Linked DNA regions of Homo sapiens. The protein of the gene in region 2 interacts with the protein of the main gene of each other region in a pairwise test. Each region holds a gene or a part of one and is shown on either strand. Other genes may lie near its edges.

What was found.
Region 1: the proteins of MXI1 (region 2) and USHBP1 interact in binary tests that used the Homo sapiens proteins (3 or more experiments, as listed by UniProt).
Region 3: the proteins of MXI1 (region 2) and NOTCH2NLA interact in binary tests that used the Homo sapiens proteins (3 or more experiments, as listed by UniProt).
Region 4: the proteins of MXI1 (region 2) and PEAR1 interact in binary tests that used the Homo sapiens proteins (3 or more experiments, as listed by UniProt).

What each region holds. Positions count from the first base shown.
Region 1 is NC_000019.10:17,261,746-17,269,159, forward strand, and holds the start of USHBP1 (harmonin-binding protein USHBP1), read right to left. Parts: upstream 3,001-7,414; 5' UTR 2,926-3,000; exon of another isoform or gene 2,816-2,925; intron 2,603-2,815; 5' UTR 2,555-2,602; coding exon 2,501-2,554; intron 2,406-2,500; coding exon 2,257-2,405; intron 1,246-2,256; coding exon 807-1,245; intron 1-806. Other genes in the region: BABAM1 (BRISC and BRCA1-A complex member 1), read left to right, coding at 7,062-7,346.
Region 2 is NC_000010.11:110,203,040-110,210,626, forward strand, and holds the start of MXI1 (max-interacting protein 1), read left to right. Parts: upstream 1-4,565; 5' UTR 4,566-4,769; coding exon 4,770-5,043; intron 5,044-7,191; exon of another isoform or gene 7,192-7,276; intron 7,277-7,587. UniProt on the Homo sapiens protein: Transcriptional repressor. MXI1 binds with MAX to form a sequence-specific DNA-binding protein complex which recognizes the core sequence 5'-CAC[GA]TG-3'. MXI1 thus antagonizes MYC transcriptional activity by competing for MAX.
Region 3 is NC_000001.11:146,156,019-146,163,061, forward strand, and holds part of NOTCH2NLA (notch homolog 2 N-terminal-like protein A), read right to left. Parts: intron 798-7,043; coding exon 462-797; coding exon of another isoform or gene 274-461; exon of another isoform or gene 212-273; coding exon 135-211; 3' UTR 1-134.
Region 4 is NC_000001.11:156,889,433-156,896,717, reverse strand, and holds the start of PEAR1 (platelet endothelial aggregation receptor 1 isoform 1 precursor), read right to left. Parts: upstream 3,001-7,285; 5' UTR 2,881-3,000; intron 1-2,880.

The DNA.
Region 1 (7,414 bases), on a different chromosome or scaffold from region 2:
TCGTGCCTTAGCCTCCCTGGTAGCTGCAGAATTGTGTCAAGCAATTCTCCTGCCTCAGCCTCCAGAGTAGCTGGGATTGCAGGCACGTGCCACCACACCTGGCTAATTTTTGTATTTTTAGTAAAGACAAGGTTTCACCATGTTGGCCAGGCTGGTCTCTAACTCCTGGCCTCAAGGGAGCCACCCACCTCGGCCTCCCAAAGTGCTGGTGTAGATTACAGGCATGAGCCACTGCACCCAGCCAACCTGGCTGATTTTTTTTTTTTTTTTTTTGAGACAGAGTCTCACTCTGTCCCCCAGGTTGGAGTGCATTGGCACGATCTCAGCTGACTGCCATCTCCATCACCCGGGTTCAAGTGATTCTCCTGCTTCAGCCTCCTGAGTAGCTGGGATTACAGGCCTATGCCACCGCACCCGGCTAATTTTTTTTTGTATTTTTAGTAGAGATGGGGTTTGACCATGTTGGCCAAGCTGGCCTTGAACTCCTGACTTTGTGATCCACCCACCTCAGCCTCCCAAAGTGCTGGGATTACAGGTGTGAGCCACTGTGCCTGGCCAACCTGGCTGATTTTTAATTTTTTTGCAGAGGTGGCAGTCTTGCTGTGTTGCTGAGGCTGGTCTTGAACTCCTGGCCTCAAAGGATCCTCCTGCCTCCACCTCCCAAAGTGCTGGGATTATAGGTGTCAGCCACCACACCCAGCCTTAAAAGGTTTTTTGAATGAACAAATGAATGAATATTGCCTACATCAGGCCCACCTCCTCCCTCAGACAGAGAGCCACATGGGACTCAGGATGGCCCCACTCACCTCTTTCTGCAGCGTCTCCTTCTCAGCTCGGATGGCCTCCAGGGAGGCCTGCGTGCGGACCAGCTCATCCTCTCGGCTACTCAGGGCCAGCCGGAGCCAGGCATTCCTCTCGGCCAGGCGAGCTGCCTCTCGCTGGCAGCTCCCTGCCCCTTCCTGCTTCCCAAGGGAACCTGCTCCCCCTTCGCTTGTGCCTTCGAACTCCATCGGCCCAGAATGGCTGGGGGGCTGGTGGCGCCAGGCTGCAGCCGCTGCCTCCAGGGAGCTCAGAGTGTGCTGGAGGGTCTGAAACACATCGGGGGCCCCATTCCCAGGGGGCACAGTCTCCTTGTACTGTAGGGCTGCTTCTGGGGCTTGGTGGGCTTCCACTGCAGGTTTGTGGGGCACTTCGGGGGCTGAGGCCAGTTCCCTGCCAGAGCCCCCATCCATCTTCTTGTCAGTCCTGTGGACACCAACTCAGGCACTTGAGTCACTCCATGCTGGGCAAGGAATTCTTTTTTATTTTTTGAGACGGAGTCTCACTCTGTTGCCCAGCCTGGAGTGCAGTGGCGCGATCTCGGCTCACTGCAACCTCCACCTCCTGGGTTCAAGTGATTCTCCTGCCTCGGTCCCCCAAGTAGCTGGGATTACAGGCTCCCACCACCACGCCTGGCTAATTTTTGTATTTTTAGTAGAGACAGGGTTTCACCATGTTGGCTAGGCTGGTGTCAAACTCCTGACCTCAGGTGATCCGCCCAACTCGGCCTCCCAAAGTGCTGGGATTATAGGCATGAGCCACCATGCTCGGCCCTGGGCAGGGAATTCTGAGGGCTTAAACTTCATGGTCTTGGGGAGGTGTGAGCGGAGCAGGGAGTTGGCAAGAGCTGCGTGTTCTGGGACTGGCATCCCAGGGTGAGACTGGGAGGCTGTGAATTCAAGGAAGAGGCTAGATAGAGGTGGTGAAGAAGTTGGAGGGGAGACCTGGAGCTGAGAAACAGAGTGAAGTTGGACTGTGACGGGCACTGGGAAAGGCCTGAAGGTGAGAGACAGAAGTTTCTGGAAATAGGGTCTTCTGGGGCGGCGGCTTACACTTGTAATCCCAGCACTTTTGGAGGCCAAAGTTGGGGGATCACTTAAGGGCAGGAGTTCAAGACCAGCCTGGCTAATGTGGCCTGTCTCACTAAAAATGCAAAACTTAGCCGGATGTGGTGGCGCACACCTGTAATCCCAACTACTCAGGAAGCTGAGGCTCCCGCTTGAACCGGGAGGCAGGGGTTGCTGTGAGCCGAGATTGTGCCACTGCACTGCACTACAGCCTGGGTGACACAGCAAGACTCAAAAAAAAAAGAAAGTCAGGCTGAAGGCAATAGGGAGCTATGGTAGGTGTGTGAGCAGAGCAGGCACATCAGCAGATCTGTGGATGGCAAAGATGCGTCTGGACTGGAGTGAAGGGCACAGACCAAGCGGGTCTTACCTGCTTCCTAGGCCTTGGCCACTGACCTCCTCCATGGGGCCCAGCTGCTCCAGCCCGGAGCTCACCGGAGGTGGGGCAAAGCTGGGCTTGGAGCTCCCACTGGCTGCCTCGACCTCCTCTGAACTCTCAGCCACGGGATCCAGTTCACCCTGCAAATGACCCCCGGGGCCCTGCTCTGAGCCAGGCAGGACAGGACCTTGGGGTCCCCAGGATCTGGGTGTGGAGGGGAGAGGGTGACACTTACGGGTGGAGCATGCCTCCCTCGCCGGCTTCGGGGCCGCGTGGCCCGGGCACTCATTGCTGTCCAGAAGCCAGTGCCCTCTGAATGCTTCTCCTTCGTCAACCCCTAAAACCACAGCCTGCCATGAGCTCTTGCCTTTGTTGTCCTGGACAAAGGACAACCTCAATTTCCTCTGCTGTGAAATGGGGCACTGACTACCCCTCAGGAAGGGATTTTGTTATCAATGTTGATTGGGCAGATTTGAATGCCTCCCTGGACAGGGAGCTCACTACCTAAGAAGGTTGTCCTGATCTCCCCCTTCTTCTCTGCCTTCTTTACCTTCACTACGTCTTTGTCCACTTTCCTCCTCTATTTGAGCCTGGGAATGCGATCTCAAGAATTCCCTCTCCTCCCCGGCCCTCCTAAATGAGAGGTTCAGCTCTCTCTACCTCTCTGATCCTCTGGGGGTAACTTGATCAGAGGCCTGAGTCCCGGGACACTCTGTTGGGGTCACTCTGACCACTGCCTGTTCAGGCCTGGGCTGGCCAAGCCTGGCCTGGGAGGGGCTGGGAAACAGGAAACCCCCTCCCCTGGTCACGTGACTTGTTATTGTGTTGTTTCCTTCTCGGGGACAGCGGCTTCCTGCAGCCCTAGCGGGGCACACATACCTGACTCCCAAGGTTTCAGCCCCTCCTCTTCTCAGCCTCCAAACTCATGGCCCTTCTAGCTCTGACTCTTGGATTTTATTTCTCAAGAGCTAGAATGGGCCGAGCACCATGGCTCACACCTGTAATCCCAGCACTCTGGGAAGCTGAGGAAGACAGATCGCTTGAGTCCAAGAGTTTAAGACAAGCCTGGGCAACATGGCGAGACCCCCGTCTTTACAAAAAATATAAAAATTAGCCAGGAGTAGTGGCGTACGCTTGTAGTCCCAGCTACTCAGGAGGCTGAGGTGGGAGGATTGCTTAACACCTGGAAGTTGAGGCTGCAGTGAGCCGTGGTCACGTCACTGCACTCCATTCTGGGTAATAAGGCAAGACCCTGTCTCAAAAAGAAAGAAAAAAAAAGAGCTAGAATGTTCCCGTGAGCTGATGGTTTTTATTTGGCTCCCCTGTGAACTTTTCTTCTCTGCCTGTCTCTTCATTGTGGGCTGACAGTTCTCTTTTTTTTGAGATGGAGTCTTGCTCTGTCGCCTAGGCTAGAGTGCAGTGGCGCAACCTTGGCTCATTGCAACCTCCACCTCCTGGGTTCAAGAAATTCTCCTGCCTCAGCCTCCCGAGTAGCTGGGATTACAAGTGCCCACCACAATGCCCAGCTAATTTTTGTATTTTTAGTAGAGACAGGGTTTCACCATGCTGACCAGGCTGGTCTCGAACTCCTGACCTCAAGTGATCTGCCAGCCTCGGCCTCCCAAAGTGCTGGGATTACAGGCGTGAGCCACCGCACCCGGCTAGGGATGGGTTTTTCCCATGTTGGCGAGGCTGGTCTTAAACTCCTGACCTCAGGTGATCCACTCACCTCAGCCTCCCAAAGTGTTGGGATTACAGGCATGAGCCACCGACCCCACCAGCCCCAGAAACATTTAAGAGCCACTTGAAGCCTCAGTTTATTTATTTATTTTATTTTATTAGATGGAATCTTGTTCTGCCACGCAGGCTGGAGTGCAGTGGTGCGATCTCGGCTCACTGCAACCTCCACCTCCTGGGTTCAAGCAATTCTTCTGCCTCAGCCTTCTGAGTAGCTGTGATTATAGGTGCGCGCCACCACACCCAGCTAATTTTTTGTATTTTTAGTAGAGACGGGGTTTCACCATATTGGCCAGGCTGATCTCTAACTCCTGACCTCGTGATCCACCCACCTCAGCCTCCCAAAATGCTGGGATTATAGGTGTGAGCCACTGCCCCCAACTCCTCAGTTGTTTTTTTTTTTTTGAGGGTCAAAGAAGCCGGCCACATTGGCCAGGCTCTAATTCGAGAATAGCCGGAGGGGCTGTGTAAGGTGAGCTTTGAAGCATAAAGAACTTGCCAGAAAAGCAACAGGAGGAACAGCATTCCAGGCAGAAGGAACTTCCTGGGCAAAGGCTTAGAGCCTTCAAAGAGCCGCTCTAGGTGACACAGCGAGACTCCATCTCAAAAAAACAAAAACAAAAACGAAAAAAAAAAACACAACAAAAACCCAGCTCTACTAAAAATACTATATATATCTCAGCCGGGCCTGGTGGTGCATGCCTGTAATCCCAGCTACTTGGGAGGCTGAGGCAGGAGAATTGCTCGATCCCTGGAGGTGGAGGTTGCAGTGAGCCGAGATTGAGCCACTGCACTCCAGCCTGGGCGACAGAGCAAGACTCTTGTCTCAAAAAAATAAAAATAAATAAATAAATACTTCTGGGGCTAAGGGGGAAGTGTGCACTAAGAAGACAACGGCAGCCTGGGCGACAGAGTGAGACTCCATCTAAAAAATAAAAATAAAAAAAAAAGGAAGGAAGCCTAGGGTAGTCTGATGCGGTGGTCCTCGCCTGTAGTCCCAGCTACTTGAGCGATCGCTTGGCTGTAGTGACTAGCCATGATCGCGTGACTGCAGTCTAGTTTGGGCGACAGAGCGATACCCTGTCTCTAAAAATAAGAAAAAAAAAAGCCATGAAAAAAGAGGTAGGCTTGAAATAGGCCCGACTTAGCTTCGCTCCACCTACAGTGACCCAATAAGACCAGAGTAAGTATTTTTTGATTCATGCAAATATATGTAAAATAAGGAACAAGAATTAAGTAATTGGGAAGGGCCCTGGATGCTCAGGCCACACCCACATGGGAATACCTGCCCCACATGGAGGCTCAGGCCAGCTCCACCAATCACCAATCAGCTCCTCCTCTTTCCCTAAATCGGCCTTCTCCGTCCCTCTTAGCCTATCACATTGCAAGCTCCACCTCTATTCCACGTTTCAGCCTATCACGGTAGAAGCACTGACTATTGTAGTCTGATTCGGCCAAAAACAAAAATTCACTAATTTTTTTAATCCAATCACATTTCATACTTTGCTCCAGTGTAGCCAATCACATTCCAGGTCCCGCCGCACCCAGCTCCAGGCAGCTCTCACTCCAAACCCCACCCCCAACCCAGTTTCAGCCTATCAGTTTCCAAGTTCTTTCTAGCCTCAACCAGTTTCTGTCTCTGCTTGTTCTGCAGCCCGCTGAACTACATTTCCCAGGAGGCGTCGGGGCTGCGCCGTACAACTTCCGGCTGTAAAGATGGCGGCTTCCTAGTGAGTCGGCGGCTGATTTAGAAGGAGGTTCAGGCTACGGTGAGCCGAAGGTGGGTGGTGAAAGCGTGTGGGGCCCGTTCCTAGGGGCCCAGCTCCCTTTGCCCCAAGAGATCCAGCTCCTCGCCTTTCCTGGGGCTTCCGCCTTTATTTCTGGTTTCTCCTGCAGTGTAGCCTCCATCCTTCTTGCTGCCGCTAAAGCCTTGTTTTTCTTAGAGGTGTGGGGACTGCAAGGCGCTCAAAGACCATCTTGGGAAGCCCGTGCCTATTTCCCAGATAGACAAACTGCTCCATTCGCGTCCTGTTTCTCTCCAAGGGGAACCACAGTACTAATATTTTGCTTCTCCCTCATGCAGACACCCGCTAGGGACGAGGGTGTCCTAGAGGTTATTATTCCCTTATTCACCAAGACATTTTCAGTTTTAGGTAACAGAAAACCCTACTCAATCTGGCTTAAGGAAGAAAAGGAAGTTGGTGGCTTATAGATTGGGTCTAACAGGAGCTGGGTCCAGGTGGTCAGAATTCGATCTGCAGTTTTCTCGGTGGAGACCATTTCGCTTTTTACCGAGGCAAAAGGGGCCCCTCACAGCTCTCAACTTTATTCTACCAGCTCTGCAACTCTAATGAGAGTCTCTTTTCCTTGATGACACTGCTAGAAGTTGCAGAGCTGCCACTCAATGGCCTGATTTGGGTCATGTGCCCATCCCTGAGCCATTTTCAGTGGCCAGAGAGCTGGGATGTGCTCACTGGCCGAGTAGGGGCATGGGGCTAGCACTACGTTAAAAAAAAAAAGAGGAAAAAAGAGGGGGGACTGTTATCTTATGTCGGAGTGGCTGCTCGGCTGAGAGGTGTAAAAGGCAGCCATTCTGCAGCTGAGGAAAGTGACTCCCTAAGAGGAGTGACTCATCATCAGTAAGCGGCTCATCGCCCCTCTTCCTTCTTAGTAACCAATCTTTTTTTTTTTTTTTTTTTTGAGACGGAGTTTCGCTCTTTTTGCCCAGGATGGAGTGCAGTGGCGGGATCTCGGCTCACCGCAGCCTCCCCTCCCGGGTTCAAGCGATTCTCCTGCCTCAGCCTCCCGAGTAGCTGGGATTATCCGCATGCGCCACCACGCCCGGCTAATTTTGTATTTTTAGTTGAGACGGGGTTTCTCCATGTTGGTCAGGCTGGTCTCGAACTTCCAACCTCAGGTGATCCACCTGCCTCGGCCTCCCAAAGTGCTGGGATTACAGGCATGAGCCACCGTGCCCGACCGTAACCAAATGTTTTTAAAACTCCAAGGGGAGGATTCTGGCTTCCCCTGTCCGTGTTCCATCTAGCCACACAGGAGCCATGGAAGTGGCAGAGCCCAGCAGCCCCACTGAAGAGGAGGAGGAGGAAGAGGAGCACTCGGCAGAGCCTCGGCCCCGCACTCGCTCCAATCCTGAAGGGGCTGAGGACCGGGCAGTAGGGGCACAGGCCAGCGTGGGCAGCCGCAGCGAGGGTGAGGGTGAGGCCGCCAGTGCTGATGATGGGAGCCTCAACACTTCAGGAGCCGGCCCTAAGTCCTGGCAGGTGCCCCCGCCAGCCCCTGAGGTCCAAATTCGGACACCAAGGGTCAACTGTCCAGAGAAAGTGGTAAGTAGAGGGGGTGGCCTGGGGCTCTGAGATGCTAGGGAACCTAGCATCTTGTCTTTTGGGATTAA
Region 2 (7,587 bases):
ACGCCTCCAGGGAAAGTCATATTTAAGCTAGTCAGTCACTGATACCTGCCACTTTAATGTACATAAATTTAGAGACTTTTGCTGAATTAATTAAAAAATATGGAGATGTTAAAGAACTGGGGCCTGAAAGACTGAGAAGACACTCTAGAATGGGGGAGATGTGAGAAAAGCTCCATCTGACTTCTAATTTAGTCTCAGGCCACTGCCTTCACCGCCTGGTGATTTCTGAAAATTCTTCATTAGAGGCATCTTATAACACAGGAGACCCATCTTGTCACCAGATCTGTCACCAGCAGTAAGGACAGGGGACAGGGCAGCTGAGTCTCTGCACTTTTTTGTAATGGAACCTCAACCATCTGGCTCAATGGGTTTCTGGCTTCTCCATGGAGACAGCATTTAGATATTTAAACTTTAATGTGAGTGACTCAGGAATAGTTTTGCAGACAGCATCAAATGCCTCTTCTCACCACTGGAACGAGAAGCCATGAACGGCCGGCACCGAGGCTCTGACCAGGCAGGGAAGGGCATTCATGCCTTTGACTCGTGACCTAAGCCCCAGTATTATGCCATGCATGTGCTAGGTGCCAGGGCCTGGGGATGCTAGGAGGAGCAAGGTGTGCTTCCTGCCCTTGATGAGCTCATAGTCTAATAAGCCCTCTAAGTACTGGGTGTTGGACAGGAGAAGCCCAGGAGTCTGCTGAACCAGGAAGAGGCTGCCAGACTCACAGTTCTGGGAGAAAGGAGGGCAGAGTCCAGGAGAGCTGAGATAATGCCTCCAGGAGCAGGTGACACCCAGTGAACTCCACTGTAGGGCGGAGGCTACTTATCCCCTGCCCATGTCTATACCCACTGGTGAGTGTGTGGGTGGTGGTGGGTGGTATGGGCAGTGGTTAGAGGAGGCCTGGTCAGCACTTTTAGGCCATGGGAGAGGCAGAGTCTCACAGTTCTCCTTGTTCCTACCATTCTGCTTGTGTCTTACAGTTCCTAACCCTCTATTCTTGGGCCTTCTACAGGGCCACTCCTTTCTAACAAATGAAAGCAAGAGTCAGGCCCCCAAGGAGAAGGAGCTGTGAGCCAGTTCCTCATCTCACTGCCAGATGATTCCTTTCCAAAAGGGAAAGGTACCCAGGAAAACTGTGGCTGGGAAAGCTCTGAGAATTAGGACTCAAGTGACAAGGGAGGGGACAGAAGAGCTCTTCATGGTGTTTGCCAAGTCTGAGTACAAAGATCACAGGGCAAAGAGTAAGAAAGAATCTGACTAGGACATTTTGGCAAGGTCCAAGGAGAAACTAGAGGGTGGACGAGTGACGGATTTAGGCAGAAAAGGCTGGTGAGTGGGGAATAGATGAGGCAGGAAGAGCAAGGCTAAGGAACCCAAGAGAGCCAAAATGGTCCATGACAGAGGGAAGAGCATCCCATCCCAATGCAAGGTGGGTAGGTTTCGATGGCAACGCATCCATCGCCTTCTCAGTAATTAACCAGCCTCTGTGTACATAAAGACATAATTATAGGCCAAACAACTCCTTTGATGTAAGAGTATAGAACGTCTGGGGGGAAAGGGGCAAATAAAAGAAAGAACAATCTTGCTTTAATATACAAACAAGGTCCATGGAAAGGTATTGCCAAACAAGCAAATAAGCCAAACAAACAAATGAACAGAGTGTTGGGAAAGCAGGACCCAGGCCGACTGGGCACCCAAGATATCCCGGGCCCTCTGAGAGCATTCTAGCTGACTTCATTGGGCATTTCTGCTTTTCTTTCAAAGAGTTCACATGTGTTCTCATCAGAATGGCTGTATTCACATCCCCTACCTGTTCTATGCAGAAATTCTCAGCATTTCCAAAGGGGCCTGTTTACTTCTGGAATCAAAACCCCAAAGAAAGGGGGGGTTGCAAAGGGTTTGAATGGCTCCTCCTGGGAAGCAAATCTAATCGGGAATGGAGCTGAGCTTGTAACCCAGCATCCTGGATGCCTGTCCTGTGATATAACCCCTGAAACACCACTCTTTCTGTTGGGGCCAACTTTATTAGAGAAATCTGTTAATTGGGGAACGGAGCGGGAGAAGGGAGAGAGCAATGGGATGTTAATATGATTTAACACTTGATGGGCTCTGAAAACAAATAAGGAGGGGGCTTCGGGCTTTAGCTTGGCACATTCGTCGTTCCACATACGTGTTACCAAAATGAATATATGCAACTAAACTATATGCGAGACTCTGGGGGCACAGTAACACAGACTTTGTGAAACAAAAAGGCATTTCTCCTGCTTCCACTGTGTCTCTTGTGGTGCCATTGTCTGATGCTAAGAACTCACATAATAACAAAAAACAATGCCCCTATGATGGGGGGAAAACTTGATTTGGCACCAGCCGTGGTGTTTTCCATGGGAATGATGGTGGGGGCTGTGGCCGACTGTGGGAATAGTGCAAATCAGCACTTTTTTGTAGATTTTCTTCAAGCCATTGTTTATTTTGGCTTTGGTCAGATCCGTGGCCCAGCTTGAAGATTCCCACTGGGCTTTCTGAAACTCGCAGACCTATGAGAGATGGAACAGGGATAAATAAATAATTACAAAACACCCTTCCCCCACCATGGCACTCATGCATGCGTGTGCCTGTCTTGGTGGTGCATGTATGTTGCAGTACTATACATCTGACCCATGCCACCAATGGGCAATTAAAGAGAAAGCAAGGTTTTCTCTGGGCTTAGCTGGTTCATTGTCTCAGTACCATCTTTCATTTGGGGCAAGAGAGATCAGAGCTGTTTCACACAAGGGCCAGTTTTTGCAAAATGGCATTGGAGAAAGCTTGTTTGAAACTGTGCATACATGAGGTCTTCCTAACATTTTTAGATGTTTACAGGCATTTCAACACGAATAACTCAGGTTGTGGTTCTCACAGAAGCAAAAAATCAGTAATTGTTCTAATAATGGAAGATAAACTTTTTTTTTTTTTTTTTTTGAGACGGAGTCTGGCTCTGTCGCCCAGGCTGGAGTGCAGTGGCGCTATCTCGGCTCACTACAAGCTCCGCCTCCCGGGTTCACGCCATTCTCCTGCCTCAGCCTCCGGAGTAGCTGGGATTACAGGCATGCGCCACCACGCCCGGCTAATTTTGTATTTTTGGTAGAGACAGCGTTTCTCTATGTTGGTCAGGCTGGTCGCGAACTCCCAACCTCAGGTGATCTGCCCGCTTTGGCCTCCCAAAGTGCTGGGATTACAGGCGTGAGCCACTGCGTCCGGCCATCAAGAGTTTTTATGACAATGTGTATGAAGCTGCCTTTGAGTAGGGTGGCTGCATCGCACACCTCCAGGGGGCAGCATTGTCTTTGTCCTCTATATAAATGGTTCCCCTGGAGGAAAACTCCAGGTGACCTTGCAAAGTAACCATATTTAGATGGGCTTGTCATAGAGATATTTTCCAAGGAAGTGCAGAAGAGTCTTGTTCACTACATCTTGTTCCTTTCTTAGATACAAGTTACATCAGAATAGGGGACTCAGGCTCTTGCCTGGGTCTGGATTGGAAGAAAAAGAGCTTACCATGGGCCAGAGTGTGCTAAGTCAGATACAATACACAAGCATCTTATCACACATTTCAATGATGTGGAAACTTAGGCCAAGAGAGGTTAAGGGACTTGTCCAAGCTCACACAGTCTGTATGCAGCAGAGCTGGGATTTGAACCCTTTCCTATGGCACCCTAGAGCAGCCTTCAATCATCCCCTGACACCTCCAGTACTTCCCAGGGCTGGAAAGCATCCATGATTGCGGACAGCAGTGGCAGTGAAACAATGTCAGCTGGGGTAGGGGTTTTCAGAGGCAAAAGGTGGAATTCAGCTGGGGAGGGGGGTGGTTCCTGAGCTGCCACTTCTGCCTCTCAAATTAAAGGGAGCCAGGTGTGGAGGCATCCTGGTGTGAGCTTTGCACAGCTGAACCAAGGCTGGGCAGAGGAGTGTGGAGAGGGATGCTGACATCTCCTCCCACTTCTGGAAAATAACTTTGCATTTGAAGGGAGAAAGGCATGAGTAAATCTGTAACTCGGATTTGGACGGCCTGGGATTTCATTTGACTGTGTGAAGGCACACACAGGTGCCTCGCAAGTGTGTGCGTGATTACGTATGTATGTGTGTCTGTGAGTAGGAGTGTTTGTGTTGGGGGTGGGGGGATCTTCTGGTTACACACTGGTTCCCTTCTTCCCATTTGGATTGGGGAGCTTTTATTTATTTATTTTTAAGTCATAGCAGCCACCATGTATGGGGACCTAACTATGTGCCAGGCATTGTGCTGGACACTTTCTGAGGCATTATTTTTCTGTGAAAAAAGTAGTTTGTTTTTATGCAGGTGCACCCAGAGACATCAGGTATTTTTTTCCATTCCGGTTAAAAGACAGTGTTCTACTCTGTGGTAAGCCTTGGGGAGAGGCAGGGAAGCCTGCGGGGACGGGCAGGGGCGGTCCCTGCCTCGCTCGCTAGTCTCCACCTTTTATTTTGACCGGTCCGATGGCGACAGGCTCGCACTAGGACCCAGGCGCCAGAGTGCCTCCGTCTGTCCTGTAGGTTCATTCAATCTCCCATACACACAGACTCACAGCGAGACCGACACACACTCCCATACACTCACACACACAACTGCAGGCAGCGAGGCTCGGGAAGTCAGGCCGGCTTTTCGCCCCGGCGCCTTCTCTGCTCCAGCCGGCCGGGTCTCCCTGGGGGCCCGGAGCTCGGCCGGGCCGCGCAGCCCCGTTAGAGGACGAGCTCGGCGGACCCCCGCTCCTCCATGGGCAAACGCGGGCGGCCGCGCAAGGAGGCGCGCTGCGAGGGCGCGGGGCTGGCCCCCGCCGCGCCCCCGGCTGTGCCCCCCGCCGTGGCCGCGCCCCAGCCCCCGGCCCTGCCCGAGGACCCCGCTGGGGCCAAGCCCAGGTGCCCCTTCTCAGACATTTTCAACACCAGCGAGAACTCGATGGAGAAGCACATCAACACTTTTCTGCAGAACGTGCAGATTCTGCTCGAGGCCGCCAGCTACCTGGAGCAGATCGAGAAAGAAAACAAAAGTAAGTTTGGGGGCCCCTGCTCTTCCTCGGCGCCCGGTTCTTTCTTTCTCGCCCACTTGGGCGACCCCTGTTGCGAGCTCGGCCCGTCCCCCCCCCGCCCAACATACACATCCAGCCCTTGGCAGTAAAGCCGATGACACCGGAGAAAGGACACGCACGCACAAAGCTGCTAAAGATGTAACAAAGACGGGCGAGGGGGAGAGGGGCCTGTCGGTGCGTCGGTCTGTCCTCTCCGGCGGGCTGGGGCTGGGAGGATGGCCCAGCGGAGGAGCGGGGGAGTGTTGTTGTTTGCTGACAACTGAGCCGAGAGCTCATCTCTTTGAGGTCGCTTTTCTTCCTTTTTTTTTTTTTTTTTTCCGGAGCCTTCTCAGGCAGACAAGTGTTGTTTTTCTGTTGCTCGTTCCTGGGTGGGGTGGGGATTAGAAGCCGAAAGTTGGAAACCATAGGCAGAGCTCAGAGGTTCCAGAAAGAAAACACACAGACACACACTACAACAATAACAACCAAACAGCTCTCCACGGCGTGGGCTCGGCTCTGTCTCTCTCTCTCCCTCCTACTTCGCCTTTTTCCTTCCCTCTAGCAGCAGGACTGGGCTCAGGCCATCACGTCTACGGACACAGTCCCCCTGCACGTCCGTTGCCGTGGGGTGCCACCGCCGCCCCCCCCCCCCCAAAGAAGGAGGCCGGCGGGGCCAAGCAACGCCAGCAGCTCGCCCCGGACACGCCGTCCTGAGCCCGGGAAACTTGGCCGTGGGGACGCGGCTAGAAGGAAACTTTGGGATCTTTGAGAAACAATAGTTGGGGAAGAAGGTGTGGGCTGTTCTGTGCTTTTTCTTTATTTTCCGGGAGACGGCTCTTGAGTGAGCGCACAGGGCAAGCAAGGCAAACGCCTTCCTGGTCGATTTCTACTCCCCCCACCCGCCCACCCCCAGATTCACGTGGATAGTAGTGCGTGGGTGGGGGTGTGCTGGGAACCCCACCCTGGCCTGGCTTCTTTTTTGTATTTATTTGTTTCATTTTTGCCCCTACCAGCCAGGTCACCCAGCTTTCCCCAGGCAGTCGACTCAGCGCCCTAACGGGGGCACGCGTGTGCAGCGTATCCAGCACCGTCCTCAGAATAATAGCTGTGAAAAGGAGGAAGGGAACTAGGCAGACAGACCGACAGATAGGGGGAAACCGGGATGTTTAATGTGTCCGAACAAGTAGGAAGATCAATGAGGCGCGAGTGTGTGTGTGTACGTGTGCGCGTGTGTGTGTGAGAGAGAGAGAAAGAAAGAAGAAAGGTCCCGATTGCAACGTGTCAGATCTTGCAACCTTCCCCCCACCCAACACAACAACCCTCAGACACAAAAACACCATTGCTGACTGATACCCCAGGTCTTCAGGGTTAAAGGAACCGTGTGTTGGCAGCGCAATTGTGCAGACGCTGTAAGGCCAAAACGAGGATTTGTGTTGTGAGGTCGGTGGTGCGTTCTTTTCTTTCTCTTCTCGCCTGTTTTCCCGGAGTGCCTGGGTTGCGAGAAAGGCGCATCGCAGGCTGTGCAGCCGAATCGCTTCGCAATTATTCATGCTGGTCGGAGGGGGATGGGGCGCGGGAAGCTATGTGTGCATTTGTCTGGAGGGTAGTTTCTGAAAAGCCAGAGCTGGTGGGGAGCTGGGTGAAGACGTGGTTTTGTTTGGTGTGTTTGCTTTTGTTGCAGGGGGGAGGGGCGCGATTTCTTCAGCTACCCCCATCCCCGGCTACCAGTTCTCTGGAGTCTGTCCCGTGGCGTTGGCTCTGACTAGGGGTACACCCCATGAGGGCACGTTGGCAGTGTGTGGCAAACCTGGCTTGCCCCCCTACCCCAGCCACCCCCCCTCACCAGCGAGGTGTATGGAGGAGGCGGTCGGAGATTCCTCAGCGTCCCGCCCCCCACTTCGCACCCGCAGACAATCGGAGACCTCCCCCTGCCCCACCCCCCACCCCCCACCCCGCCGCCCTGGCCGCCGCCACCTCGTTGTTTACCCCGTGCCGGGGCTCCGGCGTGGCCACCAGTCACGTAAGCAGAGAGCCGGGCGCGCCGGGCTTGGGCTGCCCCGCGCGGGGCGGGCCCGTGGCGGCGTAACCGGGCTCCAGAGGCTGGTGAAGCCGAGGGGCTTCCTCCCAGCCCATCGCCCGAGGCGTCCGCCCTGCAAATCTGCCAGCCCCCGAGAGGGGTTTGGAACCTTAGCACCCAAGTCTAAGTCAACTTCATGTGCGTAATAAGTCCCTCGGCCCCGCAGCCCCCCTCCTCCGGCCGGCTCCCGGCGGGAGTATTTTTAGCTCTCTTGCTTCTTTTCGCCGCTGCTGTTTGGCTCTAAATGACGTGATGCCAACGGCCCCCAGATTTCCCCGAGAGCTTGGGGCGCCGCGCCGTGCCCAGTTTGGCTGCAGAGACCCCGCTCCAGGCCCTCGCCCCGTCCCCAACAGCTCGAACAGGCTGGGGTGACCTCCGGCAAACTCCGTGCGACCATCCGCCAGGCCCTCTGTTATCCCCCTTGCAAAGAGAAGCGGTCCACGGGGGCC
Region 3 (7,043 bases), on a different chromosome or scaffold from region 2:
TTAGGTGGATAAGAAAACAATGAATTACTCCATCAAAAGCAAAAGCACAAGCACATAGTAAAGTTGATCACCCACTGTTAATGTCAATTCAGTTTAAAGCACTTTATTAACCACACATACATATTTTCCAGTGTCTAATTCTCATCGTGTTCTTTTCCATTCCAGACTTCCCTGTCTCTTTCCCAGAGCTCTGTTCCTCTTCTCACTGTTTCTACAAAAGGGACAATAAACAATTTTCTAGCCACTCATCATCATAAACCCTGACATGCTAAATTATCCCCTGCTCAGTTTATGGACCACAGTGGGCCCATAAAACTCCTCCCTCACTAGCAACCCACCCCACACAAAATTCTCACTTCCCTTTTTCCTTGCGCTTCCTAAAAAAAGCAATTGAGCCACACCCACTACCTCCTGTGCTAGGGGTTTGTCCCCTAATCCTGGGACACTAGGGAGCTCCTTACCTGGAAGGCAGTTGCACTCAAAAGTGAAGTCACCAGTCTGCCGACAGGTGCCTCCATTGACACAAGGCGAGGGTGCACAGGGCACATACAGGCTGTCACAGTACTGGCCTGTGAAGCCCTGAAGGCACTGGCACTGGTAGGAACCAGGCAGGTTGAGGCAGGTGCCACCATGCTGGCAGTGTCCTGGAATGTCACACTCATTGACATCAGTCTCACACTTCTGCCCTGTGAAGCCTGTGAGGCATTTGCAGGAGAACTGGTTGGCCACAGTGGTACAGGTACTTCCATTTGCACAGGGATGAGACAGGCAGGCATCGGTCCATTGGCACTCCTTACCTAAAGGAAGGATAACAAAACTCAGTACTGGCCACAGAAATAGGAGATGGCCCCATCCTCAATACCTCATTGACATCAGCGAGCTCTTGCGTGGAGAAGACCTCAACTCTTTGCATTTTACAAAAGGCTAAATCAGAGCCTCCTCAAGGTCATCTGACACAGAGCCCTCTCCAGTAACTCTCCAAGGACCTCAGCAGAGACACAAGGACTCAGTGGGTGGAGCACCTGGAGGCAATTGTAGGTTAGTCACATTGAAGCCCAATCCTGCAGGACGCTATCAGCAATAGGAGTCTGGATCCATCTACTCTCTCAGAGCTCACTGTCTTTGCATATGCTGCTCCTGTTTGAATATCAACTTCCGGGCCAGGAGCAGTGGCTCACACCTGTAATTCCAGCACTTTGGAAGGCCGAGGCAGGCAGATCATGAGGTAAGGAGTTCAAGACCAGCCCGGCCAATATGGTGAAACCCTGTCTCTACTAAAAATACAAAAATTAGCTGGGCATGGTGGCGCGCACCTGTAATCCCAGCTACTTGGAAGGCTGAGGCAGAAGAATCACTTGAACCCAGGAGGCGGAGGTTGCAGTGAGCCGAGATTGTACCACTGCACTCCAGCCTGGGCGACACAGCAAGACTCCATTTCAAAAAAAAAAAAAAATCAACTTCCCTTCTGTTTTCCTAGTGAACTCTCCCTATCTTGGCAACTCTACTCAAAAGTTCCAACCTCTGTAAAGTCATCCTTAGTGCCCCTCACATACATACATGTGCGCAAAGACAGATACACCAAGTTTGCTATTTTCTTCTATTATACCACCTGCCACACTGGCAGGGTTGGGTCTCCGTGGTATGCTCTCAAATCATGTCTGTTGAATGGATAAAATATATCGATATTTTCCACAAAATATAGTTACTAAATAGACCTCTGGTGATAGAAACAAGTCAATACTACTTCTGTTTCCTCTAAATGTAACACACACATATATTCTGGGAAACATTTTATTAATTGTGGCCTTGCTATAAATATCTGTTGATGTGTTTGAAAATGATGAAGGACCTCTGGGTCCCTATATAACAAATGAAATAGAAGCCATCAGGAGGACAGAGGTCTCGAAGGTATTCCGTGGACTTTCTCAAGTAGGAAAGTACCAGCACTAGCAGGAAGACTCTGACGGGTTGAAAACTAAATCATGATGCCAGGGGAAGCAAAGCAGATTCTTTGAGGCAGAAAGAGAAAGAGAAAAAAATATCCTCACAGAACTAGTAAATTTGGTATTCACATGGCTGGCTTTTTGTTGTCATTAGTCTAAGTCGCTTATTATTTAAACTACAGAGATAAGAACTCCTTGAATTTTTATTATTATTATTATTATACTTTAAGTTCTAGGGTACACGTGCACAACATGCAGGTTTGTTACATATGTATATATGTGCCATGTTGGTGTGCTGCACCCATTAACTCGTCATTTACATTAGGTACATCTCCTAATGCTATCCCTCCCCCGTCCCACCACCCCACGACAGGCCCCGGTTTGTGATGTTCCCCTTCCTGTGTCCAAGTGTTCTCATTGTTCAATTCCCACCTATGAGTGAGAACATGCGGTGTTTAGTTTTTTGTCCTTGCAATAGTTTGCTGAGAATGATGGTTTCCAGCTTCATCCATGTCCCTACAAAGGACATGAACTCATCCTTTTTTATGGCTGAATAGTATTCCATGGTGTATATGTGCCACATTTTCTTAATCCAGTCTATCATTGATGGACATTTGGGTTGGTTCCAAGTCTTTGCTATTGTGAATAGTGCCGCAATAAACATACGTGTGCATGTGTCTTTATAGCAGCACGATTTATAATTCTTTGGGTATATACCCAGTAATGGGATGGCGAGAACTCCTTGAATTTGTTAATACTCCAGTTGATTGTCTAGGAAAGTATCTAAATCTCTGACCTCATAGAAAGGTAAATGGGAGACACAAGAGTTTTTCTATAAGGGAAAAAGATGCGAGATGTGACATATGAGCACAGAAAAGTGCTCTCTGCCTATCAAGGAATGTCAAATCAAAGGAGAAAACTATAACACAAATTTAGGCACAGCATATACATCTCAGGGAGCTAAGACAGAAAATGAAGGAACTGCAATTCTTCTTGTCTTTCCACTCATGTCACTAAGAGGCACTTATTTACAGTGGAGAAGAGATATAAATGCTCACTTCTAGCAAGTGTGATTTTCAGAGTGATGCCCACAACTGAAACAGAAAGATCCCCGGGCCGGAAGTGGTGGCTGATGCCTGTAATCCCAGCACTTTGGGAGGCTGAGGTGGGCAGATCACTTGTGGTTAGGAGTTTGAGACCAGCCTGGCCAACACGGTGAAACGCCATCTTTTCTAAAAATACAAAAATTAGCCGGGCTTCATAGCGCATGCCTGTAATCCCAGCTACCTGGGAGGCTGAGGCACAAGAATCACTCGAACCCAAGAGGTGGAGGTTGCAGTGAGCCGAGACTGCGCCACTGTACTAAGCAACAGAGTGAGAAGAAAGAAAGACAGAAAGAGAGAGGGAAAGAGAGAGGAAGAGAGAAAGAGAGAGAAAGAAAGAAAGAAAGAAAGAAAGAAAGAAAGAAAGAAAGAAAGAAAGAAAGAGAAAGAAAGAAAGAAAGGAAGGGAGAAAGAAAGAAAGAATCAACCCTGAATTTGGTTTCCATATATATTATGTATAGGCACTAACTTGCTGCCTATGCTTCTTCATCTCTGAGTGGAGATGAGCTAGTAAGCTGACTGAGGTATAGCGCTATCACAAAAACCAAAAGGATGACCTTGATCTGTGATGATTCCTAAAGTGATAGACAAAAATAGCATATGTATAAAAGATGATCAGAATCGGCCGGGTGTGGTGGCTCACACCTGTAATCCCAGCACTTTGGGAGGCCGAGGCGGGTGGATCATGAGGTCAGGCGATCCAGACCATTCTGGCTAACAAGGTGAAAGCCCATCTCTACTAAAAATACAAAAATTAGCCGGGCATGGCGGTAGGTGCCTGTAGTCCCAGCTACTCAGGAGGCTGAGGCAGAAGAATGGCGTGAACCCGGGAGGTGGAGCTTGCAGTGAACCGAGATTGCACCCTGCACTCCAGCCTGGATGACAAAGCAATACTCCATCTCAAAAAAAAAAAAAAAAAAAAAAAAAAAAAGGTGATCAGAATCTTGCAGAACACACCAAGAAGAGATCCTTCTTAACAACAAAGGAAGAAGTTTTAATTTGGGACCATTTCAGAGTGACATTTTAATTATGAAGAAGGCATTACTGTCATTTCCACTAGCCAGAATTAAAATATTTTAAGTGGGTATATGCCCCCCTACTTTGCCTCCTAATAGCAAAACAACTCAAAACTGACAATCAGGAAGAAATTATTCTTATAACACCAAATATTTTCAGTGACTTACATCATCAATACCATCATCATCATGATGGAGATCATGGATCATCCTAACTACCCTCTACCCCACCAACACCTTTTGATGAATGATATGGTTTGGTAGTGTCCCCACCCAAATCTCAACTTGAATTGTATCTCCCAGAATTCCCATGTGTTGTGGGAGGGACCCAGTGGGGTAACTGTATCATGGGGGCCAGTCTTTCCTGTGCTATTCTCATGAGAGTGAATAAGTCTCATGAGATCTGATGGGTTTCTCAGGGGTTCTGCTTTTGCTTCTTCCTAATTTTCTCTTGCCACCACCATGAAAGAAGTGCCTTTTGCCTCCCACCATAATTCTGAGGCCTCCCCAGCCATATGGAACTGTAAGTCCAATTAAACCTCTTTTCTTCCCGGTCTCGGGGATATCTTTATCAGCAGCGTGAAAATGGACTAATACAGTAAATTGGTACCAAGAGTGGGGTTTTTGCGAGAGTGCCAGCTATCCCGAGGGAAACTTTGGAGGGAACCAGCTACTAGATGGTTCAATTAGTCTTTCGCCCCTACACCCAGGTTGGATGACCGATTTGCACATCAGGACTGCTACGGACCTCCACCAGAGTTTCCTCTGGCTTTGCCCTGCCCAGGCAGAGTTCACCACCTTTCAGGTCCTAACATTTGTGCTCATGCCCCACCTTCCCAGTGCAGAAAACAAGATGGGCCGGTGGAAAGCTGACCTGGCTACTGCCACCGCAGAGTGCCCAATTTGCCAGCAGCAGAAACCAACACTGCGCCTTTGATATGGCACTATTCCTCAGGGTGATCAGCCAGCTACTTGGTGGCAGGTTGATTATGTTGGACTTCTTCCATTGTGAAAAGGGCAGATGTTTGTCCTTACTGGAATAAACACTTACTCTGGATATGGGTTTGCCTATCCTGCATGCAATGGTTCTGCCAAGACTACCATCCGCGGACTCATGGAATGCCTTATCCACTGTCATGGTATTCCACACAGCATTGCCTCTGACCAAGGCATTCACTTTATGGCTAAAGAAGTGCAGCAGTGGGCTCATGCTCATGGAATTCACTGGTCTTACCATGTTCCCCAACATCCTGAAGCAGAACGGTGGAATGGCCTTTTGCAGTCACAATTACAATGCCAACTAGGTGAGAATACTTTGCAGGGTTGGGGCAAAGTTCTCAAGAAGGCTGTGTATGCTCTGAATCAGCGTCCAATATGTGGTACTGTTTCTCCCATAGCCAGGATTCACAGGTCCAGGAATCAAGGGGTGGAAATGGAAGTGGTACCACTCACCATCACCCCTAGTGATCCACTAGCAAAATGTTTGCTTCCTGTTCCCGTAACATTAAGTTCTGCTGGCCTAGAGGTCTTAGTTCCAGAGGGAGGAACGCTGCCATCAGAAGACACAACAACAATTCCATTAAACTGGTAGTTAAGATTGCCACCAGGACACTTTGGGTTCCTACCTTTAAGTAAACAGGCTAAGAAAGGCGTTACAGTGTTGGCTGGGACATCAAGGCTATCAAGACCCAGGCTATCAAGATGAAATCAGTCTACTACTCCAGAACGGAGGTAAGAAAGAGTATTCATGGAATACAGGAGATCCATTAGGGCGTCTCTTAGTATTACCATGCCCTGTGATTAAGGTCAATGGGCAACTACAACAGCCCAATCCAGGCGGGACTACAAATGGTTTGGGCCTCTCCATCAGGAAAAAAAAAAACACAACCTGCTGAGGTGTTTGCTGAAGGCAAAAGGAATACAAAATGGGTAGAAGAAGGTAGTCATCAATACCAGCTACTACCATGTGACCAGCTGCAGAAATGAGGACTGTAATTGTCCTCAGTATTTCCTCCTTCTTTTATTAAAAACATGTCTGTGCTTGCACACACTTGTACTAAGAAAATATCTTCATTTTATTTCCTTTCTCCTTTATCATGTGACATAAGATTTATTGACTTCACATCAGCATTTAAGTATCGTTAACTTTATGTAAGAGTGTTTCAGTTGGGGACTAGTGTGTTTCCGGATGTATGAAGAATAGTTGTACTACATCAGGTGTAATTATGACCTAATTATTGTCTTTATTTGAAGATTATGTGTGATCTCAGGAGATGTGTACGGGTTCAAGTTGACAAGGGGTAGATTTGTGGTGGTTAAAACTGAGTGTGTCAACTTGATTGAATTGAAGGATACAAAATATTGATCTTGGGTGTGTCTGTGAAGGTGTTGCCAAAGGAGATTAACATTTGAGTCAGTGGGCTGGGGAAGGCAGATCCACCCTTAATCTGGATGGACACCATTTGATCATCTGTCAGCAAATATAAAGCAGGCAGAAAAACATGAAAAAGCGAGACTGGCCTAGCCTCCCAGCCTACATCTTTTTCCCGTGCTGGATGTTTCCTGCCCTCAAATATCGAACCCCAAGTTCTTCGGTTTTGGAACTCAGACTGGCTCTCCTTGCTCCTCAGCCTGCAGACAGCCTATTGTGGGACCTTGTGATCATGTGAATTAATACTTAACAAACTCTCCTTTATATATATATAAAGATTGCCAATATATATATATTAAGATTGCCACCAAGACACTTTGGGTTGGAATATATATACATACATATATATTCCATTAGTTCCATCCCTCTAGAGAACCCTAATACAATGAAAAATTAATATAACAGTATTCTACACTAACTGATCCAGTATAGTCTTCTGAGTACATTTTTCACTTTTTTGCTTATTGCATTTATAGAACTCTTGGTTTAGTGCTTAAAGCAGGAGAAAAAATGAAGAATGTTCCTCCTTTTCTCATCTAATTTAATAAAC
Region 4 (7,285 bases), on a different chromosome or scaffold from region 2:
CACCCCCTCACTGTCCACTGCACACATCTCCCGCTACACAGAGGGACTGGGCCCCAGGTGCCAATTCATGGGGGTAGGACGGAGGGCAAAAGTGGGAGGGCATGAGCACCCACCAGCAGTGAGCGGGCTACGCCCCAGGGCCCACTCACCTGCAGGGATCCTGATTCACACATCAATCGCAACCCCTCCCGCAGGCTGTCGCCAGTGCCAGTCCCAACCCTCGCCGCCACCCTGGAAGGTGCTGGTGATTGTCATCCCCATTTGGTAGGCAGCACAGTGGAGGGTCTCAGGTAAAATGCCTTGCCAAGGGCTGTCTGGCTGCCAGGGGCAAGAGCAGGATTCAAATCTGCTTCAAAGCACAAAGCAGTGTGGGGAGGTAACCCCTGGGTTACCTCCCAGGTACTGGGATACTAATTACTGCGCCTCGTTAAATGTGTGCTGTGGCTAGATCCTGTCTTTTAGTTCTCCCAGCAAGCCTATAAAGTAAGTGCTATTATGCCTCCCATTTTATGAAGAAATATCCCAGAAAAGTTCAGTGATTTGTCCTAGGCCACACAGGCAACTGAAGCCGGAGCAGGGATTTGGGCCAGGTCTATGTCATTCCAAAGCCTGTGCTGCTTTCTTTTTGTTTTGTTTTGAGACAGGGCTTCGCTGTGTGCCCAGGCTGGAATGCAGTGGCGTGATCATGGCTCACTGCAGCCTCAACCTCCTGGGCTCAAGTGATCCTCCCACCTCAGCCTCTTGAGTAGATGGGCCCATGGGCGGGCACCACCATGCCAAGCTAATTAAAAAAAAAAATTGTAGGGATGCAATCTCATTATGTTGACCAGGCCGGTCTTGAACTCCTGGCCTCCAGAGATCCTCATACCTTGGCCTCCCAAAATGCTGGGATTACCGGCGTGAGCCACCTCGCCTGGTGTTTCCAGTGTGCTGCCTTCTAACCTCACAGTTTCTCTTTGGTCTTCTGACTTTCTCCTCCTCTCCCTCTGTCTCCGCCTCCTTTTTGTTCTATCCCTAGGTCTCTGCTCTATTTTTCTAGGCCTGCTTTTCTCCCTCCGGGCATTTTGTTGTAATGAGTCTGTGCCTCTGCTGTGTCTCTGCATCTGTCAGCCTCTGTTTCCGTATTTATATCTGTCTCTATCTCTGTCTTTGTGTTTCTCTCTCTCCTTCCCTGTCTTCTCTGCCTCTTCCTTCTGGCTTCTCCCCTGTAGGTTAGATGACAGAAGCCAAGATCCTCCCCAAAGCTAGGATGGCACCCCAGGGTCCCCCATGAGTCCTGGGAGGCCTCTTTCTCAAGGCTCCCAAGGCTCCTCAGAGGAGAGGCTTGGGGAATGCCGTGGTGGAGGCTCCACCTGGCCTCAGCCTCCTCCCCAGCAGTGTGTGTCGGGTGCGGGGAGGCACACAGCAGCCCCATGACCTTCTATCTCTCTCCAGGTTTCCGACTGGTGGATGAGGCTGCCTGGAGCGTGAGTTTCCTCTTCTGGGAGAGTCTGATAGGAGATGTTGAGGGGGGACAGAGGGTGGAGGAACAGATGCCAACTCTCAGCTTCATCCTCCAGTGGAGAGAGAGGAAGGCAGAGAAGTGAGTCTGGCCAACCCAGCTCCTAGAGATGGCAGCCCCACCTGCAGTGGGGAACATGGTGGGTGGGCCTTCGGAGGCCTCAAGAGTGGGAGAGGCCACACAGCAGGGAGGAGACACAGGAGATAGGAGGGCTGCGCCCACACCCTGGCTTATGACTGGCTCACAAGCACACACAACAGGCCCTATACCATGAGCTGGTTTTGAGTGGGGTTCAGAGATGAGCTCCCCCGTCTCCAACCGTCCCCCTAGCACAAGGCCAGCTTAGGCCAGGGTTGAGAGCTGACACCCGGCCCAATCCTGCCCGAGCTGAGCCCTGGCTGAGCCTGGGAACCTCAGGCCAGCACAAGCTGTTCCTGTCCCCGGGGACTAGGGTCACAGCCCAGCCCCAGGAGAGGCCACTCATAACAGGCCAGAACAGGGGAGTGGAGAGCAGCTACTGGAGGCTGGAGACGGGGGTGGGGGTGAAGGGTTGCCTTGCTGGGGCCTGGGCTCCTGGACCCCCCACACACCCACCTGGCCCTTAGCACAACTTCAGATCATCAGCCTGCCAAGTTTTCTGAGGATCCAGTTGCCCGGGACCTCAAGCTGAACCCCCAGTCCTCATAACTGGCAAAGATGTGAGAGCCAGGGACCTGCAAACCTGGGTCCTTCCCCTACATCCTCCCTCAAACATTCCTGCCGCTGGACAGAGAGATGACACTGATAATCTGTTTATCTAGCGTCATTCAAAGCAGGAGACACGTTTTTGCTCACTTAAGCCTCACAACCCATGAGGTAGGCCCTATATTATTCTCCTTTAGAAATGAGAAACTGAGGCACAGAGGTCAGGCCTCTTGACCAAGACCCCACAGACAGTAAGCTGCAGAGTGGAGGGTGGCACTTAGGCAGTCTTGGCTCCAGTGTCGATGCTCTTGTGGCTACACTTCCCTTGCAAGCCAAGGACAGCACCCAGTCTTCTCTTCCCAGCCCTGGGAGGGGGCAGTGAGCCAGGCTGCCCCTGACTCACAAAGTCCGGGGACCAGGGGCTTAGGGAACAACCTCGCTAGCATTTCATCTCATTTACATGTTCATTACGGAAGGGAACCCCCAACCCATCCTCTCTGGCCCCCTCCACTGTCCCCTTCCCCTCCTTCACGTCTCTCTCCATCAGTCCCTCTTTTCTACACTCCTGGGTCTGGGGCCTCAGACTCCAGTCGAGGAGGGGGACCTCAGGGACCGCAAGCCCTTTCCCCGGGGCAGGGTGGTCTCCGGGGCCGCACCACCGGGCCTCCCCTGCCAGGGGGCGCGCAGTCACTCACCTGCCTTGGGGCCCCGTCTCCCCTGCGGCCTGGGGTAGGAACCGCCGGGGTCTGCGAGGAGGAGGACTGGACAGCCGAGGACGGGGCGAGGGTCCCCACTTCGAGCCCCAGCCTGACTGCGGGAGCGGCGGGGAGGCGGGACGCTGCTGATCGCAGGGCCGGGAGGGGCGCCGAGGGGCGGGGGGCAGGAAGGGGGTGGGAACTCGGGCCCTCGCCAAGGCAGGAAGTTTTGACAAGGAAACAGGAGCCGGGGGAGGGGAGATCCAGGCGCCCGGGAGGGAAAACTGTATTCTGGGTGGGATCACAGAGGCCGACTCTGCGCGGCCTGGGCCAGGAGCAGAGGGGGATAAGAAGGGGATGAGGAGGGGAGGTCAGCGCAGGGGCCCAGGGCCCCAGTCCCTCCCTAGCTTCCCCTCGTTGTGCGGCCTGGGTTACTTACCCTCTCGTGCCTCAGCTTTCCTATCTGCAAAGTGGGGTTGTGGGAAGGAATCAATGAGATCGCCTACGTCGGGCACTGTCCAGTGCTGCCCAGCAACCGTGATCTTATTAAGACCCCTCCCGGGCACCGCATCCCACTAGTCTCGGAGAGGCTGACAGGGCGAGGCCCCCCTCTCCTCCTGCCGCCCCTAATCGCACTGCGGAAGGCCGGGCGCGGTGGCTCATGCCTATAATCCCAGCACTTTGGAAGGCCGAGGCCGGCCGATCGTGGAGCCCAGAGTTTGGAGACCAGCCTGGCCAACATGGCGAAATCCTGTCTCTACTAAAAATACAAAAATTAGGGCCGGGCGCCGTGGCTCAGGCCTGTAATCCCAGCACTTTGGGAGGCCAAGGAGGGCGGATCATTTGAGGTCAGGAGTTAGAGACCAGCCTGGCCAACACGGTGAAACTCCGTCTCTACGAAGAGTACAAAAAAAATTGCCGGGCGTGGTGGTGGGCGCCTGTAATCCCAGCTACTGGGGGAGGCTGAGGCAGGAGAATCGCTTGAACCCAGGAGACGAAGGTGGCAGTGAGCCGAGATCGTGCCACTGCACTCCAGCTTGGGCGACAGAGCACAGCTCCGTCAAAAAAAAAAAAAAAAAAAAAACGCGCCAGGTGTAGTGGCGCGCACCTGTGGTCTCGGTTTACTGGGGAGGCTGAAGAGGAAGGATCGCTTGAGCCTAGGAGGTCGAGACTGCAGTGAGCCAAGATCCTGCCACTCCACTCCAGCCTGGGCGACAGAGCGAGACCCTATCTTAAAAAAAAGAAAGAAAAAAAAAAGAAAAGAAAAAAGTCACACCGCGGGAGGGTGTGACCCTGGGAAGCATTCTCCGCCTCTGCCCGCCCCGCCTCCGGCCCACACCCACCAGCGCGTAAGCAACTCCTGAGCCCACCGAGTCCGGTGCGAGCGCCACCTCGCGGCTAGCATCCGCTTCCCAGAGCCCCACAGCCGGGGGACCAGACCTGGGAGCCCTTCCCCGCCTGATAGCAATGAACATTAGCTTTCCCCGCCTGATAGCAATGAACATTAGCTTTCGCCGTGGTCAGCCCTTCAGGCGTATTGCCTCATTGAATCCTTCACTCGAGATTGGTTTCATCATTATGTCCTTTTACATATGGCGAAACCGACGTCCTGAGCGGCTTAGGACACTAATTAGTGGCAGAAGCACTATTTGGTTTGGTTTTGAGACGGAGTCTTGCTCTGTCTCCCACGCACGATCTCAGTTCACTGCAACCTCTGCCTCCCGGGTTCAAGCGATTCTCCCGCCTCAGCCTCCTGAGTAGCTGGGATTACAGGCGCGCGCCCACACGTCAGGCTAATTTTTGTATTTTTAGTAGAGATGGGGTTTCACCATCTTGTCCAGGCTGGTCTCGACTTCCTGGGCTCAGGCGATCCGCCTGCCTCGGCCTCCCAAAGTGTTGGGATTACAGACCTGAGCCACGGCGCCCCGCCTACAAGCAAGATTTGAACCGAGGTCTGTGGTGCGTCCAATTCCAGGGCTCACACTCCACCTCCTCACACAGAGAGCCACAGAGTAAGCTTAGGTGAGGAGAGCAAAGCAGTATCATCCCTCCTGGGAGACTTTTAAAACTCAACTGTATTGAGGTATAATTGACATACAATAAAAAATGTACCTACTTAGAGCATACAATTTGGTGAGCTTTGTTTTTTAGACTTTTTTAAATTGGGGTAAAATATACATACTATGAAATGTATCATTCGAAACATTTTCAAGTGTACAGTTCAGTGGCATTAAGTACATCACTTGCGTGGAAGCATCGGTGTTATTCATCTCCTTTTCCGATGAAAAGGTCAGAACTTTTTCAGCATCCCAAACTGCAACTCTGTACCCATTAAACAGTAACTTCCATTCCTCCTGCCCCCAGCCCCTGGTAACCACTACTCCACTTTCTGTCTCTATAAATTTGTCTGTTTTAGATACCTCAAGTAAGTGAAATCATGAATACTTGTACTTTTGTGTCCGGCTTATTGCACTTAGCATAACACTAGCTCGATGAGTTTTTTGTATGTGTGTGCATCTGTTTAACCACCATCCCAATAAAAAAAAAAGTTTTTAAATTTCCATCTCCTCCAAAGTTTGCCTGCTCCCCTTTGCAGATAATGTCTCCAAATTCCATTTTCACTCCCCACCCCAAACCCTGTGAAATCTCTGATCTGTTAGGCCGGGCGTGGTGGCTCATGCCAGTAATCCCAGCGCTTTGGGAGGCCGAGGCAGGCAGAGGTCGGGAGTTCAAGACCAGTCTGGCCAACATGGTGAAACCCTGTCTCTACCGAAAATACAAAAATTAGCCGGGCATGGTGGCGGGTGCCTGTAATCTCAGCTACTCAGGAGGCTGAGGCAGGAGGATCACTTGAACCTGGGAGGTGAAGGTTGCAGTGAGCCGAGATCGCACTATTGCACTCCAGCCTGGGCGACAGAGTGAGACTCTGTCTCAAAAAAAAAAAAAAAAAAAAGAAAAGAAAGAAAGAAATCCCCCATGTGCTTTCTGTCACTGTAGGTTTATTTGTTCTAGAATTTCCATATAAATGGAACTGCACAATATGTGCTTGCTTTCCTTTAGCTTCTTTCACTTACCACAGAGCTTTTGAAAAGTCCACTCCTTCTCACCATGAGTAGAATTCCACTGTATGGACCAACCTTGTCTTATCCCCACCCCAGCTGATGGGCCCTTGGTCTTTTCTGGTTTGGGACTATTATGAGTGAAACTACTATGGATATTCTTGTACAAGTCTCATGTGGATATATATGTTTTCATTTCTCTTGATTGCTACTTAGGAATGGGATTGCTGGGTCATAACAGTTACAAATCATGTACGTATTCAGTTTCAGATTGTCTAAAATGTATAACTGAGAATACTTTTGTCTGGGAAACTTTGATGTCAGAGACAAGCAAGAGATGTTTAATTGGTGTTTTAAGGGATGAGAGGTGTGTGTGGGTGGGCGACTGGATGGTGCTGTTGGCTTTGGGGAAGAAAAGGAAGAATGAAAGGTTCAAGGAGGCTTTTTAGGACTTCAGTGTCACCAAGAGGCTCCAGCAGAGGGCAGCAGAAACCATAGGACAGCTCAAGGGCCGGCGGCCAAAGACCATGGAGTTGCAGACTATCAGAGGCCAGAGGGACCTTGAAAGTCACCTGATCCAGCACTTTCAAGGAGCAGAGTGGGAGACTGAGGCCTGAAAAGGAAGAGGTGCAGGCGCTCTTCCCTTCCTTTGCCTGGCCCACTTGTTCTCATCCTTCCACACTCAGGCATGAAATGTTTAACACACACATGTCTCTCTCCCTAGGATTCTGAGTTCTTCAAGGACTGAGGCCAGGTCAAAATCATCTTTATGCTCCCAGGGCCTGGCACAAAGTAAGTGCTCAATAAAGTACCACCTTGTGCAATGCTCTTCCAGCTCCCTGCCCCCCAGCTCTGCCTGCTGGGCCCAGCCCTACGTATAGCTAAAAGGATGGACGTCCCCTGAGGCCTGCCAGGAAGGCAGATGCAGGCTCGAGGTTCTCATTCATTCAGCTGTTCAATAGGCACCATTTTGTGTCTGCCTAGTACCCAGGACACAGGAAATGACATTGATGATGACCATGATGATGATAATAGCAACTACTAACTTTGGGGTGGGGGATGCTGGTGCGCCAGCCTCCTACTGATTTAACTTACCTCCTCTTCCTAACTTACTCCTACGGATTACCAGGTACTATTTTAAACCTTTATTTAATAACTTATTTTAGCAATAAATAAGAGTTTCCTGCCCTCAAAGAGCTCACATGTGAATTGGGGAAAGAGTCAATTATTCATTGAATAAAGATTTATTGAGCACCTACTATATGCAGACATTGGGGCTACAGCTATGAACAAAATAGATAAGATTTTCTGCCTAAATATAGAAAGTGGAAAAAAAATGAAGCTAA